Linked DNA regions of Homo sapiens. The protein of the gene in region 2 interacts with the protein of the main gene of each other region in a pairwise test. Each region holds a gene or a part of one and is shown on either strand. Other genes may lie near its edges.

Region 1 (3,813 bases), on a different chromosome or scaffold from region 2:
TGAAGACACAAAGAATGAGGTTAGGTTCATTGAAACCAGGGTAACACCTTTGGATGAGCTAAACACAAAGATGACACTGACCTTGAGCAGGTATAGAAGCTCAGAGACATGCCTGCAAAATGAAATCCCTGAGGAATTTTGTAGCTACCCAAAGATACGTGGTTCAAATTAAAATGTCCGACTGATCACTCCCGGCATGTGCTGCACAGTTATGTGAACGTGTCACACCTAACGTGGGTCCATTGTCTTCAGACTGAGCACAGGTTGCCACTGGCATGGTTTGAGAATAGGAAAAGAGCCATGCCCACTGACCCATCCTATGTCTGGGCTTCCAAATGGAACTGTAGTTTCATTCAAATCTTCACGTGCCTATAGGTCCTGCCTGCAGGAATGACATCTCTCGGCTTAGTAAGGGCTGCCTATTGTGGGAATATGACTAACATCTGGAACACCAGATGGAGACTTGTCACCGTCAAAGTAAAAAACCTATTGTCCAAGTAAAGGGCGAAGCTGATATGCTCTTCCTCAAATGAGTAAAACACACTTCTGTAGTGCTGGAATGAGTCAGGTAGTTCAAAGTACATTGACGGAGTCGAATAACATCCATCCAGTGAGTCCTGTAAGACTTCAGGCTCTTCCACTTCCATCAGCACGCTGTTGAGCCTGGAAAAGGAGACAAAACTAAAGAAGCAGCCAGGGAAAATCAGACACCACAGAGCCCCACTAGATTTCAGAAGTCACATAAGGAAGTGGTTAGAAAAGAAAAAGGATAGATCCATTAATGAGGTAAAAAAAAAAATTTATTGCCTTTATGTTGGGATAGAACAGGGCCAGGTAGAAAACAATGAAAGAGAAAGACAGAGAGAGAGAGACAGAGACAGAGACAGAGAGAAAGTGACCTAGTGAATTGGCCAGGTGACATACTGGTAAGGGAGTAAAAGGACACTCTGAGTTAGTGCCCTCATGACACACAGCAAACTGTGATCATGAAAAGAGTGAGCTCAATAGTTTTCCATAAAATATGCTCAAAATTCGATGCAGTGGCCATGAGAGTACAGCTTTTGAAGTATGGTCAACCTATGGTACGCTAGTAAATGATAAGGGGAGGAAGAAATGGAAACCTAAACATCTACTGCAATGAAAACCAACAGCAATGACAGTAGGAGTAATTCAGCCTTCGTTGAAAACATGACATCAAACACACTCTGGTTTCCCTGAATCTGTTGCCTCCAGGTGTTAACACAGAATTAAGCATCCACAATTGCTGAAAGTCACCTGGGGCATGGTGGGTTTTGATCTTCTTCCCCTTCTTTTCTTCCCCTTCTTCTTTCCTTCTTTGATCTTCTTCCCCTTCTTTTCTTCCCCTTCCCCTTCTTTTCAATTTCTGCAATAAATTCAGACATGGACAGACACATTAAGCTGATTCCCCTACACACATAACAATCCACTGTCTAATCCTCACACAGGGACCTCAGGCTCCTCAGCATAAGAATAGGACACTGTGAGAGATATATTTCAGGAGGCCTGAAGGCTGGTCATGATAGAAATTCCTCGGTTTTTCTCCCAGAAACTGTGGGTAAAATGTCCCTATTCTAGTAGATCGTTATCCCAATATCATTTGTCCCAAGTTTGTGCAAACAGTTATGCCATATTTTTCCAATCAATTTAAAGCAAATACCCTCAAATGATTTCTGGGAGAAAAACTGCAATATTTAGCCCTGTCTCATCAAATACTCAGATTGTTCATGGTTGTGAGGACTTTAGACACTGAAATTAGAGTGAAAAAGGAAATCTACAAACCCTTGAGTCAAAATCATAGTTCTCTGAATTTGTCACATCTGCCCAGGTCCAATGTCATGAGAGTAGAATCAGAGTGCCACAGGTATGGCCTGAGACTAGGAAGAGAGCCATGCTCACTGACCCATCCCATGTCTGGGCTTCCAGGTAGAACTAGAGTTTCATTCAACCTACATGTGCCTATAGGTCCTCACTGCGGCAATGACATCTCTCAGCTCAGTAATGGCCACTTGGAGCAGGAATATGATCTTTATATGGAAGACTCAGTGGATGCTTATCACCTTCATAGAAAGGTACTCACCTCCCACGTCAAGAGAAAAGCCAACATGTTTTTCCTCCAATGCATAAAAGGAACTTCCATAGGGCTGGCAGGAGTCAGGCTGTTCAAGACAACTGGAAGGAGTTGAATAACATCTATCCAGTGAGTCCTGCAAGACTTCAGGCTCTACTACCTCCAGCAGCTCCCTGCTGAGCCTGGAAAAGGAGGAAAAAGTAAAGAATAAGCCAGGGGAAATCACACACAACAGAGCCCCAACTAGGTTTCATGGGTAGCATAAGGAAGTGGTTAAGAAAGTAAAAGGATAGATCCATTAATGAGGTAACAAATTATTGCCTTCATGTTGGGACAGAACAGGGCCAAATGGAAAAGAATGAAAGAGAAAGACAGATAGACACACACACACACACAGACACACACACAGAGAGAGAGAGAACGAGCTCAGTGAATTGTCCAGGTGACACACTGATGAGGGAGTAACAGGACACTCTGAGTTAGTGCCCTCAGGACACACAGCATACAGTGATCATGAAAAGACTGTGCTCAATAATTTTCCATAAAATGTGTTCAAGTTTCCATGCAGTCGCCATGAGAATACAGTTTTTGAAGTCTGGTCCACCTACAGTAGGTTAGTAAATGATAAGGGGAGGAAGAAATGGAAACCTAAATATCTACTGCAATGAAAACCAACAGCAATGTTAGTAGGAATAATTCAGGCTTGCTTGAAAAGATGTAATCGATAATGTCAGCCCGCTCTGTTTTCCCTGAACCAGGAGTCTCCAGATGTCAACACAGAAGTAGCTGTTCACAATTGCTCAGTTACCTGGGGCATGGTGGGCCTTGGTCTTCTTCCTCTTCTTGGTCCTTTTTAATTCCTGCAATACATTCAGACAGGGACAGACAAAATAAGCCAATTCACCTACACCCATAACAGTCCACTGTCTAATCCCCACACAGGGATCTCAGGCTCCTCAGCATGAGAACAGGACAATGTGAGAGATATACTTCAGGAGGCCTGAAAGCTGGTCATGATATTCTTTGGTTTGCATCTCAGAACCAAGGGTGAAATATCCCCATTCTGGAAGATCGTTATCCCAAAATCACTTATCCCAAGTTTGTGCAAACAGTTATGCCTTATTGTTCCCATCAGTTCAAAGAAAATGCCCCAGATGATTTCTAGGAGGAAAACTGCAGTATTCAGCCCTGTCTCATCAAATGCCCAGCTCGTTCATGGATGTAAGAATTTTAGACACTGAAATTAGAATGAAGGAGGAAATCTACAAACCCTTGAGTCCAAATCATAGTTCTGTGAATTTTTTACATCTGCCTGGGTCCAATGTGCTGAGAGCGGGCTCAGGTTGCCACAGGCATGGCTGGAGACTAGGAATAGAGCCTTGCTCACTGACCCATTTCATGTCTAGGCTTCCAACTGAGACTACAGTTTCATTACAACCTATATGCGCCCATAGGTCCTGCCTGCGGCAATGACATCTCTCGGGTCAGTAAGGGCCACTTGGAACAGGAATATCACCCCTATCTGGAAGACCAGGTGGAGGCTTATCACCTTCATAGTAAGGTACTCACTGTCCACGTCAAGAGCCAAGCCAAGGTACTGTTCCTCCAATGAGTAAACAGCACTGCTGTAGGGCTGGCCTAAGTCAGGCAGTTCAAGATAACCTGAAGGAGTCGAATAACATCTATCCAGTGGGTCCTGCAAGACTTCAGGCTCTTTCTCAGCC
Region 2 (3,813 bases):
GGAAGTAAGAGGGTATCTAGGCCAATTTATTCAGCTGGAAATCAATCTGTCCAGGGCTGGACCAGGCGCCTCCCCCTCGATACAGCTCCTGGCTGAAGAGGTCATCAGAGCAGCAGCTGTCCCCAGGCCAGTGTCACGTCACTGCGTACAGTTCCTCCCGATCGTTCTTGCAGATCTGATAGTGGCAGGGGAATTTCTGCGAGCAGGCCCAGGGCTCGGCGGGCTGGTCAGGTGGCGGCAGCAGCAAGGCTGCGCTCCCGGCCAGCAGGATGTGCCAGATGCTGTGGGTGTAGTAGTAGTTGTCGCTAGTCATCATGGAGGTGTAGATGGCGATGCCCACAGAGGCCATAGAGACGCCGGGCAGGAGGTAGAAGGCCCAGCGCTGCCACGAGGTGGGGTAGCACTGGCGCCGGTGCCCGCAGCGGTAAGCCTGGAGAAAACAGCCACGCAGGTATCAGTGCAGGTGGGGCCGCGGCTGCAGCTCCCAGGGCCCAGATACGGTGGTTACTGGGGGCCTGCCCAGGTCTGGGCAGCAGAACGACAAGGGTGGGCTGCTTCGAGGGGGCTCAAGGCCACTGGTCCTCAGGCCCAGGCCTCAGGGACACAGCCATGCTGGGCCTCTGTGGGTGCCATGGCAACCCCCAGCAGATATGGGCATTCACTGGTTGGAGCAGGACCAGGAACGTGGCTAGAGCAAGGGGCCAGGCTCTCTTCTCCGAGCACCTGGGCAGCAGTGCCAGCCAGCCCGGCTCCTTACCCACATGGAGGCCATGATCACGAAGGCAAAGAGGCAGGGCCCCAGCATGTTCCACATGCCCCTGCGGTCCAGCTGCAAGGACATGGCGATGACCAGTGTACCCAGAAGAAACAGCACCTGCGCAAGACACAGGGATGACTGCAGGGACGTCTCTGAGGGCTCAAGGCCCAGCAGGAGCACGCGTACCCCACGGCCCCACAGCACCTCTGCCTGCCCCCTCGGAGCTGCTGCCACCCTCAGACCAGCTCTGCCAGCCTCTGACTAGCTCTGCCAGCCGGCAGGGACATGCCCCTCCTTCAGCTTCTGTATTGCATCCACAGGTGAATGTGGCCAGGCAGGCATCTCTGGGGGATTAGACGATGCTCACACAAACTGGACAGACGCATATGGCCGCTCTGCACCCACACACTCACTAGCCCCCTGTACCACTGGGTTTCTAGAAGTCCCCCATCAGGGTGGCTTCAGTCTCCCACCCACTGTTCCATGGGGAGGGGCTCCCACCCCCCAGTCTCCATCAGACACCTCTGCCCACAGCCTACAGTTCTCTGCCTATCTGCAGGTTCAGGCCCCGCACTCAGCCCTGCAGGACCCTGGTGCTTCCCAGCCTCCCCTCTGCCCTGGCTGTGGGGCTCCCATGGGCACCCCCTTGGGGCAGTACCCAGCCTGCAGTTCCCAGAGCAGATGGGAGGGCAGAGCATGCAGCTCACAAGCCCAGGGCATGAGTCTCCCCTTGCCAGGGCCAGCTGCCACAGAGAGTCCCCAAAGCATCATTGGCCCCAAGGACCCAGGGAGCATGGGTGGGGGCTTCTCGAAGGCAGGGGGCCTGGCCTCCCCTGCCTACCACCTTCCTTCCTGGCATCCTCCAAACAGCTGGCACTGCCCCCTCACAACTGCCTGCGGGGTCTCAGACCCGCATCTCCGTGTGGCATCACAGAAGACATGAGGTTTCTTTTCTTTTCTTTTGTCACCCAGGCTGGAGTGCAGTGCTGTGACCTCGGCTCACTCCAACGCCTCCAATGCCTGGGATCAAGCGATCCTCCCACCTTAGTCTCCCGAGTGGCTGGGACCACAGGCATGTACCACTACGCTCGGCTAACTTTTCGATTTTTTGTACAGCCCAGGCTGCTCTTGAACCCCTGGCCTCATGGGATCCTCCTGCAAGTGTTGGGATTACAGGTGTGAGCCACCATGCTCGGCCAAGGCATTACAGGTGTGAGCCACCATGCTCGGCCTAGGGATTACAGGTGTGAGCCACCATGCTCGGCCGAGATGTGAGGTTTCCAGGGGCCGTGCCCAACGCCAGGTCCGGCCTCTCCCACGGTACTGCCTTTCGCAGGCTGCACTTGGGGGCCCTGCTCCCCCGGAGCCCACACCCCACGTCGAGGGCCACTCACGTATTTCAGGACTGTCTTGAGCCGTGCCATGCACAGGATGGTGACCCAGATGGCCGCCCCGGAGCCCAAGAAGTCGCAGTACTGCAGCGTGTCGTAGCTGAGGATGCACAGCACCGCCTCCCCGGGCTGGTCGCAGGCGTGGTAGAACTGTGGGGAGGCTCCATGAGCGCGGTCCTGCCCTCCCACCCCACATCCCTGCAGGAGGGGCCAGCCTACCGTGGAGAAGAACATGGTGTAGGCGTAGACGGAGGCCTCCACCAGGAAGAATCGCCGCACTGAGACGGCGATGGGGGCCAGGAACATGAGGTTGCTGAGCGTGAGCAGCAGTGTGGCCGCCCTCTGCTGGGCCACCGTCTGGGCTGTGCTGTTGTCCGTGCAGCTCCACCCACGCCAGCCTGCGGTCACAAAACCCCGACGCGGAGGCTGGGGGCACTGCTGAACCTCAGGGCCCACCCCTCACCCAGGACCCTGCAGAGAAGCCCCTTCCTCACCCAGGAGCAAGCAGGGTAGGCACGGCGGGCGGGGTCCAAGGTCAGGAGGCAGTACCACCCCCCGGGGATACCTGGTGCCTGTGCCAGGCAGACGGATTGTTGGTGGGGAATGGGGGAGTGGGGAGGAGGCTTTGCCCCTGCATTGCTCTGCAAGGGTCTCTCTCCAGCCCCTTGCGGCGCTCCCCCAGGGGAAAGGCACAGCACAGCACTGGAAGCCAACAGCAGCAGCGTCTCGGGGCGGGCGGGGCCCTGGCACTCACCTGCCTTGCAGCTGCAGCTGGCATACAGGTAGCTGTGTCTGCGGAGCAGGAGGCACTGGCCATAGGGTCCACAATCGTTCAAACAGGGCACCAGGTACAAGGTGGTCTCCACGTGGACCACAGCCTGCTCACAGTCCCTTTGAGGAAGGGGCCACAGGAAAGCTGGTGCAGTGATCTGACAGCCCAGCTGCCACCAGCGCTCCCAACAGGCTGACAGACATGAGAACGCAGCATTAGGGCCCCCAGCTTTCAGCAGCCCTGGAGGAAGCACCCCTCTAGCTGGGTCACTCCGAACGCCAACCTCAGGCAGCCCGGCCTGTGGTCCTGAGTGAAATGACAGGGTGCCTGGCCCCCGTCTCTGCCCTAGGTTTACTTACTCAGCATTCTCAGGGCACATGAGCTGCAGGGAGAGGTACCAGTTGTCTGTCTCTGGGTAGGGGATGATGAGGTTGGCCCTGCGAGACCAGGCGCTCAGAGACAAAGGGTAGCCCTGGAAGAAGGCTGCAGGGGAGCCAGAGGGCCCCATCAGAGGAGGCCGGGGCGGGGGGCTGGCCGGGGCCACGCTGACGGTGACGCCTGCCCATCATACCTGTGGTGCAGTTGAGCGAAGTATTGAAGCCAAGGAAGGGCGAGGCAGCATTCACGCAGGCCACTACGACGGTCTCGTTCCGCATCTCTGTCTGGAAAGGGAGGCGGTGCCGGCTCAGCTCCAGCAGCCCCTGGCCGCAGTGGGGTCATCTGCCCCACGTGCCAGCTCAGCCTGGTGCTGGTGCCTTTCTTTTTTTTTTTTTTTCTGAGATGGAGTCTTGCTCTGTCGCCCAGGCTGGAGGGCAGTGCCGCGATCTCGGCTCACTGCAACCTCCGCCCCTGGGTTCATGCCATTCTCCCGCCTCAGCCTCCCGAGTAGCTGG

Evidence for each region.
Region 1: the proteins of PGAP6 (region 2) and NBPF19 interact in a two-hybrid assay, tested with the Homo sapiens proteins (one large-scale study listed by BioGRID).

Annotation. Positions count from the first base shown.
Region 1 is NC_000001.11:149,551,345-149,555,157, reverse strand, and holds part of NBPF19 (NBPF family member NBPF19), read right to left. Parts: coding exon 3,659-3,813; intron 2,950-3,658; coding exon 2,898-2,949; intron 2,272-2,897; coding exon 2,099-2,271; intron 1,385-2,098; coding exon 1,276-1,384; intron 664-1,275; coding exon 420-663; 3' UTR 1-419.
Region 2 is NC_000016.10:371,854-375,666, forward strand, and holds part of PGAP6 (post-GPI attachment to proteins factor 6 precursor), read right to left. Parts: intron 3,583-3,813; coding exon 3,492-3,582; intron 3,404-3,491; coding exon 3,280-3,403; intron 3,040-3,279; coding exon 2,903-3,039; intron 2,547-2,902; coding exon 2,368-2,546; intron 2,299-2,367; coding exon 2,152-2,298; intron 875-2,151; coding exon 758-874; intron 431-757; coding exon 134-430; 3' UTR 1-133. UniProt on the Homo sapiens protein: Involved in the lipid remodeling steps of GPI-anchor maturation. Lipid remodeling steps consist in the generation of 2 saturated fatty chains at the sn-2 position of GPI-anchor proteins (GPI-AP).